4 linked regions of the Homo sapiens genome follow. The protein of the gene in region 4 purifies or fractionates together with the protein of the main gene of each other region. This does not show direct contact. Each region holds a gene or a part of one and is shown on either strand. Other genes may lie near its edges.

Region 1 (3,500 bases), on a different chromosome or scaffold from region 4:
CGCCTAGTCACAGCAGGTGGACCTCGTGCTCATCAGAGCATGCCAATCCTAAGCCATTGGACATATGTAGACTGGTTTTTGTTGTTGCTATGTACATATAAATATATATATAAAATGAACATAGTTCATGCTTTCAGATAAAATGAGTAGATGTATATTTAGATTAATTTTTTTAGTCAGAACTTCATGAAATCCACACCAAAGGAAAGGTAAACTGAAATTTCCCTTGGACATATGTGAAATCTTTTTGTCTTTATAGTGAAACAAAGCCAGAGCATCTTTGTATATTGCAATATACTTGAAAAAAATGAATGTATTTTTTTCTCCAAAGAACAGCATGTTTCACTCAATGGTGAAAAGGTGGAAACATTTATGTAACTTTATGTGTATCTGTCTTGATATCTACTGACATTGTCTATATGAGGAAAATGATTACTGGTCATGCTCCTGTGAGTTTTTTGGGAAGGTAGGGTCATTTCTCCCTGCCTGCTTTGTGCCAACTAGCATGTTGCATCTACATGCATTATGAGTCTGGTTAGGCATTACTTTAAACATACATAAAGAGACAGTAGGACATTGTGGCTGAGTCTACCCAGCTCAAGGTAAAGGAGAATGTTGCTAATTTTTTAGCAAACTAGACCAGCATTATTACTCAAACTAAAAATATCACACCTGAAAAATTTAATTTAGGACCTAAAATGTCTAGATTAGCTTTCTGCTTTTTTTATTTGAATAACTCATTCAGTTGTGAATGAATTCCTCTTTATTTGGTGCCACAGTCACCAAATGACAAGGATTTGCCACTTTCCCACCAAATTGTGAGTGCTTGTAATTTAGGTCTCTCTACCTTAAATTCAGTATAAGGAAACGTAATTATGATTGATTTTTTCCAAAGATGACAAGCTGTGTTGAAATACATTTTTTCTTTTGACCAATTGACAGAATCTAATAAGCTTTAATAATCTTCCCCTTTTATGTGAAAAGTTTTGAGAACTGTGAAATGTTTAGGAACAAACTGTTGAAATCCATTGGAAGGGAAAAAAGAAAGTGGTACCAGTGTTACCAGCTCAACTAAAACCTGCAATTCTGCATTTCAACTCTTCACTTCCTCAGCCTACAAATAGCTCATTAGATGACATTCACGCATGCTGGGTATAGGCAAGGAAAGTAATTTTCAAAGTACATTTGCAGTTCTCTTTTTCAGAGATGATTCTATGATAGTGCCTCTGAAAGTTGATGCAGCATTTTTGCCTTTCCAAAAAGTATTTATCCTCACTGCTTTTTGCAGTACTTGTATTTTCACAGATGGATTATCTGGGGTAATTTTCTTCAAAGGGAGTTTGTTATACACAGTGAAAATGTATTATAGAGTAGAATAGTAAAGCTCTAGGGGTTTCAGAAAGCTTTGATGAACAGATGACAAACATCTGAAACCCCCTCCGCACTGTTACCCAGTGTGTATATAATGACTTGTTATAGCTCAGTGTGCCCTTGAATCCATACAGTTTCTTAAAAGACAATAAAATCTTATTAATAAAGTTAATGTAACTTCTAAGTTCTAGAAAATGCTGATTCTGTCTGCCCCATTCAATTGGGGGCTACTAATTGATTTGTTGCTTGGATTTCCTGAGAATTTCTCTATTTGTAGGAGGGGTTTTTTCTTTTTACGGTCTGTTGATGACAATTACTTTATGGGTGTGATGCACCGATGGTAGCCAAGGAATCTGTTGGGGAAGTTCGGAAAGAAACCTTTTCTTTCTTTTATTCAGTTTAAAGTAAACTTTATCCTGGATGTTTAGAATCAACATTAAGAGTTATATTATGGTGTTCAGAGATTAAGCTGACTTGGATACAATATTTTCTTTTGAAAATGAATTTTCTTTTTCATTTGTGATTTTTAAAAAATGTTGCACCAGTTATGCTTCATGCATCGTTACATCTTCATCAGGTTAATGTAATGTCTAGTTCCTTTGCAATAAATATATTGCTGCAGCTTTCTTGACGTATACTGTTACTTTTCGGGAGAGAAGCAGCTCTTGGTTAGAGTCTTTTACTGCAGGGGTCCCTGGGTACCTGTCTGTGGCCTGTTATGAACCAGGCTGCACAGCAGTGGTGGGCATGCGAGCAAGCATGACTGCCTGAGCTCTGACTCCTGTCAGATCAGCCACGGCATTAGATTCTCATAGGAGCGCAAACCCTATTGTGAACTGTGCATGCAGGAGATCTATGTTTTGTGTTCCTTAAGAGAATCGAATGCCTGATGATCTGTCACTGTCTCCCATCATCCCCAGATGGGATCGTCTAGTTGCAGGAAAACAGTCAGGGTTCCCACTAATTCTACATTATGGTGAGTATATAATAATAATATGGTGAGGATATAATAATAATAATAGAAATAAAGTGCACAATAAATGTGCTTGAATCATTGAATCATCCTGAAACCATCCCCTGCCACCAGTCTGTGGAAAGATTGTCTTCCATGAAACCAGTCCCTGGTGTCAAGAAGGTTGAAGACCGCTGCTTTACAAGATCTGCATGGTGAAACCCCATCTCTAGGGAAAATACAAAAATTAGCCAGGCGTGGTGGTGTGCATCTGTAATCTCAGCTACTCAGGAGAGTAGGAGAGGCATATATTGCTACTTATAGGAGGCTGGAGAATAGTTTGAACCTGGGAGGCGGAGCTTGCAGTGAGCTTGCAGTGAGCCATCATGCCACTGCACTCTAGCCTGGGCCACAGAGTGAGACTTTGACAAAAAAAAAGAAAAACAAACAACCAAACAAAAAAGATCTGCATGGTTTGGATTGTACCTACTTAAAATTGCTACACAAATAATTCTTCCTAATAGAGTCAGACAACAAAGATAATTTAGGAGACATTTATGTAAGTACATTGTTACCATTTTTCAACTTACTTTCTCAATGGAGACTTTTGAAAGAAAAATATAAGCAACCACATTGACAGATTTGCATTCTACCCTTTTATTTTCCAGGCCCCCTCATAGATAGCAAGGGAGAGAGAGCCACAAGAAAATACAAAATTTTCCAACTGGACGCAGATAATTAAGAATTAAGGACATTTACTGATGGATGTGATATGAATGTTTTTATATAAAATATGCATCTCTTGGAGTATTCTCATGTATATTTGTAATCCAATAAAAATACACTGTATCTTCTTGCTAACTTTAGGACTAACACTTTTAACTATTTTTTGCTTAATGTAGTAGTTAAGCATTTTGAGAAGGAGGCACTGTAGGCTTAATAGTACAGTCTCTTAATATCCATGTTGACTTTTACCCATTTTGTCACTATTTCACCAATTATTTTTTCACAGTACCAGATTAGGAGTAAGAAATCTACCATCTGATGGCATGAAGTATTTAGTCCTTCTACCATGATGTGACACTCTCATTATATTACTCATTAGCTGTGATATAATGAGAAAAGCACGGGATTTAGGGTGAGAAGTTTTATATCTGTGTCTTGGTTCCACCACTTT
Region 2 (3,500 bases), on a different chromosome or scaffold from region 4:
AGTGTTTACCTTAAAAATAAATTTATGATTTTTTTCCCTCAAAAATTCTAACAGTTGACCTTGACTTTCCAGAATTGGAACACATTTTTCCTAATTTGCATCATCAGCTGTTTAAACCCTTAGAACCACATCCAGATTTTGACTTATCATCATCATCCTCTGGGATTTCTCCAGACAACAGAGACTTTTACCAGGTATATTAAAGTAGATGTCCCATTGCAGTGAATATCTAAAAATAGTTTTAAGCCATTTCTTCTACTGGAACAAAAGTTCTTCTAAACCCTTACCTAGAATCACATGGAAGTCTGGGCACAGTGGCTCACACCTGTAATCCCAGCACTTTGAGAGCCCAAGGCGGGCAGATTACTTGAGGCCAAGAGTTCGAGACCAGCCTGGCCAACATGGCAAAACCCTGTCTCTACTGAAAATACAAAAATTAGCCAGGTGTCGTGGTGCGCACCTGTAGTCCCAGCTACTCGGGAGGCTGAGGTGGGAGGACCACTTGAGCCCAGGAGGTGGAGGCTGCAGTGAGCTGAGATCGTGCCACTACACTCCAGTCTGGGTGACAGAGCCAGACCCTGTCTTTAAAAAAAGAAACAAACAAACAAACAAAAAGAATCACATGGAAAACTTAAATAAAAAATAAAAATAAATCCTATTGTCCAGACTACACCCTAGACCAATTAAAGCAGAGTTTCTGGGAGTGCTCAGATAGTACTAATTATTATTATTATTTTTTAAGCTCCCCAAGTGATTCTAATGTGGAACCAACTTTGAAAACAGCTGCATTGGGCCGGGTGCGGTGGCTCATGCCTGTAATCCCAGCACTTTGGGAGTCTGAGGCAGGTGGATTGCTTGAGGCCAGGAGTTTGAGATCAGCCTGGCCAACATGGTGAAATCCCATCTCTACTAAAAAACACAAAAATTAGTTGGGTGTGATGGCATGCCTGTAGTCCCAGCTACTCGGGAGGCTGAGAACCGCTTGAACCTGGGAGGCAGAGGTTGCAGTGAGCCGAGATCGTGCCACTGCACTCCAGCCTGGACAACATAGTGAGACCCCATCTCAAAAAAAAAAAAAGGAAAACAGCTACATTAGAATTTTGTTTGTCCCATCCACCTGTCTCCACCTAGGGAGTATGATGCCATAAAAGGCTTAATAACAACTTTTAGTTGTGGAACATATTTAAACAGTAAAGTAAATACAATTTTGCAAAATTTAAAGTATCCTCCTACACAGTCAAAGGAGCTGAGATTTAAACCTGAGTCTTTTTGCTTCCACTTCCTGATGGCCTGACATTTTAAAGTCTCTTTCATATTGATTGAAAAGAACTGGATTTGAAAAAGCAAATCATTGCTGTCATAGTGAAGTGATAATTAAGGAAGAGTAATACCAAAGGAACACAATGATTATTGTTTCAATTGTTAATACCTAATCAGTATTTCAGCCTTTCCCTTTTGTTTCCTGCCAGAGATCAGATTCTTCATCTGAAAGCCACTGTGCTACTGGATTATCCAAAAGTACAGTTTATTTCACAGCACTGAGGAGGACCAGCATGCATTCTTCTCTTAACACAAGTCCGAATCAACAACCTGACACTAACTTGGCTCATGTTGGAGCTCACAGTTTTGCTACAGAAAATATTATTGGGGGTATGTATGACTAAGTTAGAAAAAGTTAATTTTTCCATGATTTTTTACATCCATTTCCTTAGAAATTAAGCCTAGCACCTCTTGGTTTGTCTTCACCCCTGCTCTCACCCCTATCCTGGGTGTTAAAAAATATTTAAATTACAGAAGTAATACATGCATTTTTTTAAACAATACTGAACATTATGAAATAAAAGGAAAAGTGTTGCCTCTTGTTCCTCAATTTCCCTACCTCAATCATTATGTGATAGTTAACAGTTTAAGTATTATTTTTTTGTTTGTTTTTTTTGTTTTTGTTTTTGTTTTTATTTTGTTTTTGAAGACTGAGTTTCACTCTTGTTGCCCAGGCTGGAGTGCAGTGGTGCAATCTTGGCTCACTGCAACCTCCGCCTGCTGGGTTCAAGTGATTCTCCTGCCTCACTCAGCCTCCCAAGTAGCTGGGATTACAGGCATGTGCCACCACACCCAGCTAATTTTCTATTTTTAGTATAGACAGGGTTTCACTATGTTGGTCAGGCTGGTCTAGAACTCCCGACCTCAGATGATCCACTCGTCTTGGCCTCCCAAAGTGCTGGGATTACAGGTGTGAGCCACCATGCCCAGCCAGTTTAAGTATTCTTCTTAGGCCAAGTATAGTGGCTCACGCCTGTAATCCTAGCACTTTGGGAAGCTGCGGCAGGAGGATCCCTGGAGCCCAGGAGTTCAAGACCAGCCTGGGCAACATAGAAAACAAGTATTCTTGAGCCTTTGGTACAAATGATTATATATACACACAAACATACATGAGATACACAAGGATGTACAAATTATATATACACACATGGATAATTGAGATACACATGGATGCTTTATTCTCTTTTCTGTTATTAAAGTCATATTCAGTTCTTATAGAGGAAAACATCCTCAGTTTATAGCCATATTGTCCTTATTAAATATTAATAGAAAAAGAAAAAATACTTGGTGTGAGCTGTAGTTTGAGAAATCACTGTGACCATCCTTATCTTTGTATTCATGTTTATACACATCAACTTTTATGCCTAAAATTGTAGGTTACTTGCAATTGGATGATAAACTATTAGAGACTGTCAGTATCCAACTTTTACAACATGTAACGATGATTAACTGATTTTTGAATTTCTTAATGCAGGATCTGAACAATGTTTTGAACAGCTTCAGCCAGAATATTCTTCACAGGAGGAGAGCCAGCATGCTGATCTACCAAGTATTTTTAGCATTGAAGCAAGAGATTCTTCCCAAGGCATGAAAAATCAGAACTATCCCTCTGAAGAACATACTGAAATATTACAAAACAAGAAAAAAATTGTTCATTTCCAGCTTTCTATAGGAAACTTAAGTTCAGTCTACAGTTCATCTGATGAAGCTAATGTATTTGATCAGTTAAATGTACAGCATAGCACTCCATGTGGTTCTAACTCTAGTGAGTGCTCAACAAAACACCAACTAGAAAGCAGAAAGGAAAGTATGGGCTTTGAAGAACTATCAAAAAGAGGGGTTGTTACAATGTTACAAAGTCAAGGACTCATTGAAGATAATAAAAATGAAACCTGTAGGGTTTTAGACATAAATCCACAGGTAGAGGAAACTGACTCTCGATTATGTGTAAGAACAGTGGAGATGGGAACTTCAATTCAGGCACCATATTCCTTAACTACTCAAAATGAAAAATATTTTGAGAATTCAGCTGAAACAGACATTCCAAAAATCACCAAAAAACTATCTCAACTAGGAGAATCAGAGCTTTTTGCAAGTTCTGGATCATTTTCATTACAGAGCTCTATACCAGTCTGGGTAAGTGAAATCAGTGTTGTATAAATAACATTTAAATTCCTTTT
Region 3 (3,500 bases), on a different chromosome or scaffold from region 4:
TCATTCCTCCTCCTGCCCACACCTACCTCCCTTTAAATATTTTAGGTTGCAGAAGCACAGCTGACCAGAAATTTGCTCTTAAAGATAAATCCTAAAGATAGAACTCAGTGCTTTATACTGAGTAATGGCTCAAGAAATTCGCCTTCAGCACAAGCTGTATGGTACACAGCTGATAGAATTTGCTGTTGTGGCTCCAGTTCACTGATGCTATGAACTACGGGCTAGAAACAGAGGGACTTAACAGGGCTTGAGACTAGCATTTCTCTAGACTCAGCATCCTTAGCTCCAAAGGTTCAAAAGAGAAATTGGTAACAACTAACCACTCAAGCAATTCCTCAGCATTAACACCAAAAATTCTCCTTAATTTTTCTTTTCTTTTTTTTTTTTTTTGGACAACAGAAATAAATCCTAGAGGACAAAATTAAACTCAATAGAGTGTAGTCTAGTTAAAAACTCGAAAAATGAGCAAGTCTGGTGGGAGTGGAGGAAGGGCTATACTATAAATCCAAGTGGGCCTCCTGATCTTAACAAGCCATGCTCATTATACACATCTCTGAACTGGACATACCACCTTTACGCAGGAAACAGGGCTTGGAACTTCTAAGGGAAATTAACATGCACCACCCACATCTAACCTACCTGCCGGGTAGGTACCATCCCTGCTTCTCTGAAGAAGTGAAAGAGCACTGATTTCAGCAGCTAAGAAATGGGCTCTTTTAAGGCGATTTAGACATTGCAGATTGTTCCACAGAGAAGGTACCTTAGCATTTCCTGTTAATAAGGTACCTAATTAAGACTAAAGTCCCCAGAAATGGTAAAGAAAGAATCACCTTTCTGGGCTGGGAGAGTAAAATCCTTCTTTAGTGACTAGAGTGAGGAACCCTGAACTTCTATTTCATCTAAAGAGCCATGAAGCAAGTTCCTGTGTGGTCTGCAGAACTTGGATAATGAGATGAAAAAACAAGAATGAAATTATAGGAAAAAAATCAAGAGGAAAGGAGTAAGAAGAAAATAAAAGTTATCTTAAAAAATATTTCTTTAGAGTGTGTGGTTCAGGTGGACTGGTCCTTGGTAGTATGGTCCATTAGTATCTGTAAAGAGAGAGAGTGATTGGTTAACACTTATGTCTTCCATATGAGAATTCCAAAAAACAATCGGAAACAGAGCACCTTCTCCAGGGCCCCTCCCCAGCCTGGGTGGGATCCCTGCAGTCATTCCCCAGGGCACCAGTCTCCCTTATTCTTCCACAGGGTCTCTGACAATGCCATTTCTGGTGTTACCGCCTGTTCCCAGGAATGAGTCAGTGTTTTTTCAACCCTGACTAAACATTACAATAATCTGGGGAGGTTTTACAAAATAATGTTTTGTAAATTTGGTCCCATCGCAGACCAAATATATCAGAATCTCTTAGGGTGAGGCCCAGGCTCCAAAATTTCAAAAAAACCCTAACTCCCTGATATCTCCCACAATTTCTCTATCTACCTTGTTAACTGGAACAGTTTTTTTGTTTGTTTGTTTGTTTTTAAGACAGAGTCTCACTCCATCACCCAGGCTGGAGTGCAGTGGCATGATCCCAGCTCACTGCAACCTCCGCCTCCCAGGTTCAAGTGATTCTCGTGCCTCAGCCACCTGAGTAACTGGGATGACAGGTGCCCGCCACCACACCCGGCTAAGAGATAGGGTTTCGCCATGTTGGCCAGGCTGGTCTTGAACTCCTGACCTCAAGTGATCCATCCGCCTAGGCCTCTCAAAGTGCTGGGATTACAGGCGTGAGCCACCGTGCCTGGCCTGGAACAGATTTCTTGTATTCTTCAAAATCAGGTACAACATTTGATCTTTATGTCAGAAGCAGGCTAGCCTGCTTGGTTTAATACTGGGAAAAAGAGCTTTTCACTTGCTTCTCCCCAGGTTACCTGTAATAATTAGGTTTGAATGGCCCATTTTTGTTGAGTCCCAGATATTTTGCTTGGTCATCTGTCAGCTCTGTAAGGTGGGCATCAAATGATGGCAGATGCAAGCTGGCAACGTATTCATCTAGGAAGAGCAAAGTGGCAGGAGAGCAGACTCCTTTTCAAAATGTCTCTCAAGTTATAACTTCCCATTTTCATTTGAAGCTTTTTTAAGAAAGCAGACAAGGGATGGAATAACTCTGAAAGAATCCACAACTTGAAATATTTGCTTAATTAAAAAAAAAACCTCAAAGCTGCCTTTCTGGGCAGGATGCTTCTCTCAGCACATGTACAGTGCGTTCAGAAAAGCCACTTACCAGGGTAACAAAAGGGAGTGGGCTTTTACCTCTCTATCCTTCTCTGGCAAAGCAGGGGGCTTCCCTGCAGTGGCCCACATGTCACATGCTACTCCTACCTTCCTGCAGCAACCTCCTTAACTAGATTATAGTCAAATTAGCAATCAAAGTGGACACCAGTAAGCTAGAAAGACCCTGTGTCAATAACACTCATTTAGGATAAGATCCATGGATCTTAGGATCATGAATTTCTAAGGTAGTCGGCACAGAATTTTTACTTTTCCATAGATAAGCTTCCCTTTTATAATTATACACTGAAAAAAAAGTCTGAAGTAAGCTATTGGAGGAGAGGAGAGCAAGAAGTATTTTAGCATTAAGAAGTCAGGGATTTGGGCTAGCCAAGGAGATATGGGAGATGGGTACACCGTGCAGAAAGGCAAAGGACTAGAGATGATGTATTATGTCACATGAACACAGCATGGGTTGCTTACAAGAGATTGGATGGTTTGCATATCCTCACAGAAAATGGACAATAAAACCTGTGTTTGTTTCTCTCATTTTGTTCCAAGGCTGTATGTACTCAGCTGCACTGGGAAGTTTACTGAACTTCATAAGGCTACTTAGAGTAAGAACATCTCCCTAAACCATTGTGTTAAGCACTGTTACTCATTAGCTGTGATTCTCACACAATTCTACAATGTATGTAGTATTATTTTCATTTTACCAATCAAGAAACTGAGGATCATAGAGATTAGAACTTGTCCTGAGGTCAAACAACCAGTAAGCACAGGAACAGGAATTGGAACTCTGACTCTAAATCCAATGCCTTTCATGGCAGTCATTTTACCAAACTATGCAGCTGTCTGCATAGATTTCCACTGTTTTTCACTCACCCATTTTCTTAGGAAGCAAGTACACATCCTGCTTGTATCGCCCCTCGGGTGCATTATAGAGTTCTATCAGTGCCAAAGCCTAAGGTGGGAAAAGAAGGCCAGAAAGCACAAAAATATTTCTTAGACAGGCACATAAAAATAAAACCAGGTTAAACAGCATTTGGGTAAGTACTACAGTGATCTACCACAGTCACAGTACCTAGGACTTTGCCTATACTAAAGGGCAGCACACATCCTAAGAGGATTTGTTGTTTTTGTTTAGTTCCTAACGAAAGAACAAATCAAATAAAACTAAGCTGGAACATTATATTCTCAACTAAAACAGCCAATTCAACGAATACTGACTTAGTGACTCTTTTCTA
Region 4 (3,500 bases):
AGCACACTGGCTAGGCTCCTGAGGGACACACACAGCCACACCCCAGGATGCAGGACAAAGAGAAGGTGCCCCTGGGGACGCGGCATCTCCTGGTCTCCCAGTGTGATCCTGGATGAGGGAGGCCCCAGTGTGCTCATGTACGGGTTGCCTGGTAGAATCCAACAGACCCAAGTCCTCTCTGGGGAGGGACCACCCTCCTGGGTCCCACACCAACCAAAAGCTCTGCAATCCAGGCCCAGCACAGGCTACACGTCTGGGTCGGGGGAGAAGATGCTGAGCAGCTTCCAAACTCCAAATCCCCATGTGATCACAGCCATCAGAACCAAGCCCCTTTGGACAGCATTTTGAGCAAAATGAGGTGACAGGCCCCCCAACACCCCAGAGCACAGCGGGGGACCCACAGGCCCAGGCCCATGTGGTGTCTCCCGAGAGCCCTGGACACTGTGAGATGCAAAGACTGCCAGGGAGGGCCCAGGCGCGGGACCACCACACGCTCGTGGGAGGGGACATAGGAGACCTGGGGCTGAGATGACTCCTAGGTCACCACACGCAGAGGACCCCGGAACCCACACAGACGCTGCCTACAGGGCAAGAGCAGTGGCCGCCCTGACTCACCAAGGAATGCCTCGTTGCTGTGCAGGGACCTGCAGCCGCCCCAGCTCCTGTCCACCAGGTCCAAGAGCGTCTCCAGGAGCGCCGCCTGCAGGGCCGTCTTCTTCCCGGGTAGAGCCGAGTGTGACCCGGGAGACGGCTGTGATGGAAACAACAGCATGAGGCCAGCGAGTCAGTAACTGAGGTCCTGAATGCCAGCAGGTGCCCAAGCGCACCCTGGGATGCCCTCGCACCACGAAGGGGAGGACAGGTGCCCTGAGGCCCCAGCCCTGAGCCAGGTGGAGGGCGGCTCAGCAGTGCCTGCCCAGTGAGGCTTAGCCAGGTGCACCGGTCCTGGATGAGTGAGGTCTCGATGACAGGACAGGACGGGGCCCACACATTCCCAACTCAAGCAGGCCCCAGACTCCTCCCCTCAACCCAGACAGGGAAGCGGAAGACACATCCAGGCCGCAGTCAGAGCCTGTGTTCAAAAGGAGCTGCCCAGGAAGCAGCCTGCACCCACAGTCAGGCTGGTAGAGGGTGCCAGGCGCTGTCCCCAGCAATGGCCCGGAGTCAAACAATAACCCTGAAACAGACCGCCCACCTCCCCCATCTCTGCCTCCTTCCAGCTCAGGACCTGCCGGGGACGTCAAACACGCCCCACCCAGCTCTGGGACCCCCCCCCACCCCATGCTGCTACGGAGCTGCCTCTAGCTCCGGCCATGCCTCCCTTCCTGTCCCACAGTTCCGCACCTTCAAGCTCCTCTGCCTGCATGGGAGTCTGAAGCCCTCGTTGTGGCAAGTACCAAGTGAACAGCCCCTGCCTGTTCCCTTCTGGGTGGTCTGCACTCATGTCTACAGCAGGTGTGTCTCAACGCCTCTGACTGGGCCTGCGCCAGTTGTCCCCCTGACCTCTAGGTCACCCTGAGGGTGGAGTGACTCGGTCTCTCATCACAGCGACCTCCAGGATCCTCCCCTCACGAAAGGGTCATCAATGGCTCAGCCGGCCAAGATGCCCGATTCCAGCTTTGGAGACAAATGCCCTGTGCACCGTAAGGCAGAGTCCCCTCTCTCCACCACGGGGCTTCCACTCAGAACAGCAGCGCAGGACAGCGTGTGGCACAGAGGCACACGTCCAACAAAACGCAGCAGCAAGCACCCTGGAACCCTAAGTGTGATGATTCCCTTTATCCTGGGACACGGTCAGTGCCGTAGGCGTAATCACGGCACCGCCAAAGCCGTAACAGCCCCGCATCAGGGAGGGACACGGTCAGTGCCGTAGGCGTAATCACGGCACCGCCGTAACAGCCCTGCATCAGGGAGGGACACAGTCAGTGCCGCAGGCGTAATCACGGCCCCGCCAAAGCCGTAACAGCCCCACATTAGGGAGGCAGTGCCGTGGGCCTGCTGCTCCCCAGCCCTTCTCTCACCTCTCTGGTGTCGGTCACACCCCGAGACCTCTGCTCCTCAGTCTCCGAGGCCTCAGGCTGAGACAAGGTCCTCCCGTTCCTGCTTTCTGAGCTGTCCTGTCTGCTCAGGCTCTCCTTGGGCACGGAGGACCCATGAGTTCTCTCCGGGCAGCCCAAACCCTCCTGGTCCGAAAACGTCTGGAATCTTCCAACAGGCATTCTTCGCTTCCTGCACTTTCCGGGGGCTGGCAGGGGACCAGGCACCATTTCTCCTGACAAATCCAACTTCTGAGAAGAGGCCGAGTCCTCGGTATCCATGGAGTCTGAGATATAGAGAGGATGGGGCGCACGTCAGGCCAAATTCTCTGGGTGCAGTGTTCAGCACTGTAACTTTTAAAAGGCATGTGTGTGCCCATGTATATACACACATGGACACACACGCACACTTACATATGTACACGCACACCTATCCACGTGCATACATACATCCATACACCTGCACAAAGGCACATGCAGAGGGAGGGTGCCGAGGGAAGAAAGGGGCATACTGGGGCACACGTGCTAACACGCAAACTCTGGGGGAGTCTGGATGAAGCAGACACGGACCGCCCAGCTTCGCGTGTTCACCCCGTGATGACCGACGTGCAGTACGCTTCAACAACGCGTTCCAAACAACGTCTAAGCACACGCCCATCTCTGAAGACAGGTGAAGTGACAGACTCTGATGGTCCGTAAAGTGGTGGGTCCCGTGCACTGTACCGACCACTAAGCCCCCAGGACACACAAGACCCGGGGGAAGGCAAACTTGTCTGTGGAAGGACAATGAAGGCAGGAGAAGGCACAAAACGGGCACAGCCTTGGCCTCCACCACAGCCTGCTCAACTCAAGATGACCCATCACATCCTGCAGCGGCTGACAGACAACCTGGCTAGGTCCCCTGCCTCTCACCAGTTGGGCATGAGCAAGCTTCCAGGAGGCGCCAGGGTCACGCGAGACAAGGTTTCTCTTTTTCTTTTTTTTTTTTTTTTTTGAGTTGGAGTCTTGCTCTATTGCCCAGGCTGGAGTGTAGTGATGCCATCTAGGCTCATTGCAACCTCCACCTCCCAGGTTCAAGCGATTCTCATGCCTCAGCCTCCTGAGTAGCTGGGACTATAGGTGCCCGCCACCATGCCCAGATATTTTTGTATATTTAGTAGAGACCTGGTTTCACCATGTTGGCCAGGCTGGTCTTAAACTCCTGACCTCAAATGATCCGCCTGCCTCGGCCTCCCAAAATATTGGGATTATAGGCGTGAGCCACCGTGTCTGGCCTGCTCACGGCAGGAGGTTTTCTGATACTTATGCCACATAGGTGGCCATCACATGGTATCACGTGACACTCTTGGTTAACTTTTCTCGCCTTTGATTTTCAAAATGTAGCTATTGCCATAACCTGGGCCCATACACTTAAAAGTGTGTGTGCATTAGTGAGAGGGTGAGGGAGGGTGTGCACACACACAC

The links.
Region 1: the proteins of CEP72 (region 4) and TBC1D4 purify together in Homo sapiens (affinity purification with mass spectrometry, with the first as the bait; one large-scale study listed by BioGRID). This does not show direct contact.
Region 2: the proteins of CEP72 (region 4) and CEP295 purify together in Homo sapiens (co-immunoprecipitation; one large-scale study listed by IntAct). This does not show direct contact.
Region 3: the proteins of CEP72 (region 4) and AHCYL1 purify together in Homo sapiens (co-immunoprecipitation; 3 studies listed by BioGRID and IntAct, with this or other methods). This does not show direct contact.

Annotation. Positions count from the first base shown.
Region 1 is NC_000013.11:75,283,170-75,286,669, reverse strand, and holds the end of TBC1D4 (TBC1 domain family member 4), read left to right. Parts: 3' UTR 1-3,167; downstream 3,168-3,500.
Region 2 is NC_000011.10:93,724,182-93,727,681, forward strand, and holds part of CEP295 (centrosomal protein of 295 kDa), read left to right. Parts: intron 1-72; coding exon 73-194; intron 195-1,469; coding exon 1,470-1,650; intron 1,651-2,794; coding exon 2,795-3,456; intron 3,457-3,500. UniProt on the Homo sapiens protein: Centriole-enriched microtubule-binding protein involved in centriole biogenesis.
Region 3 is NC_000001.11:110,019,265-110,022,764, reverse strand, and holds part of AHCYL1 (S-adenosylhomocysteine hydrolase-like protein 1), read right to left. Parts: intron 3,218-3,500; coding exon 3,139-3,217; intron 2,035-3,138; coding exon 1,914-2,034; intron 1,092-1,913; coding exon 1,085-1,091; coding exon of another isoform or gene 1,039-1,084; 3' UTR 1-1,038. UniProt on the Homo sapiens protein: Multifaceted cellular regulator which coordinates several essential cellular functions including regulation of epithelial HCO3(-) and fluid secretion, mRNA processing and DNA replication.
Region 4 is NC_000005.10:636,340-639,839, reverse strand, and holds part of CEP72 (centrosomal protein of 72 kDa), read right to left. Parts: intron 2,324-3,500; coding exon 2,022-2,323; intron 752-2,021; coding exon 616-751; intron 1-615. UniProt on the Homo sapiens protein: Involved in the recruitment of key centrosomal proteins to the centrosome.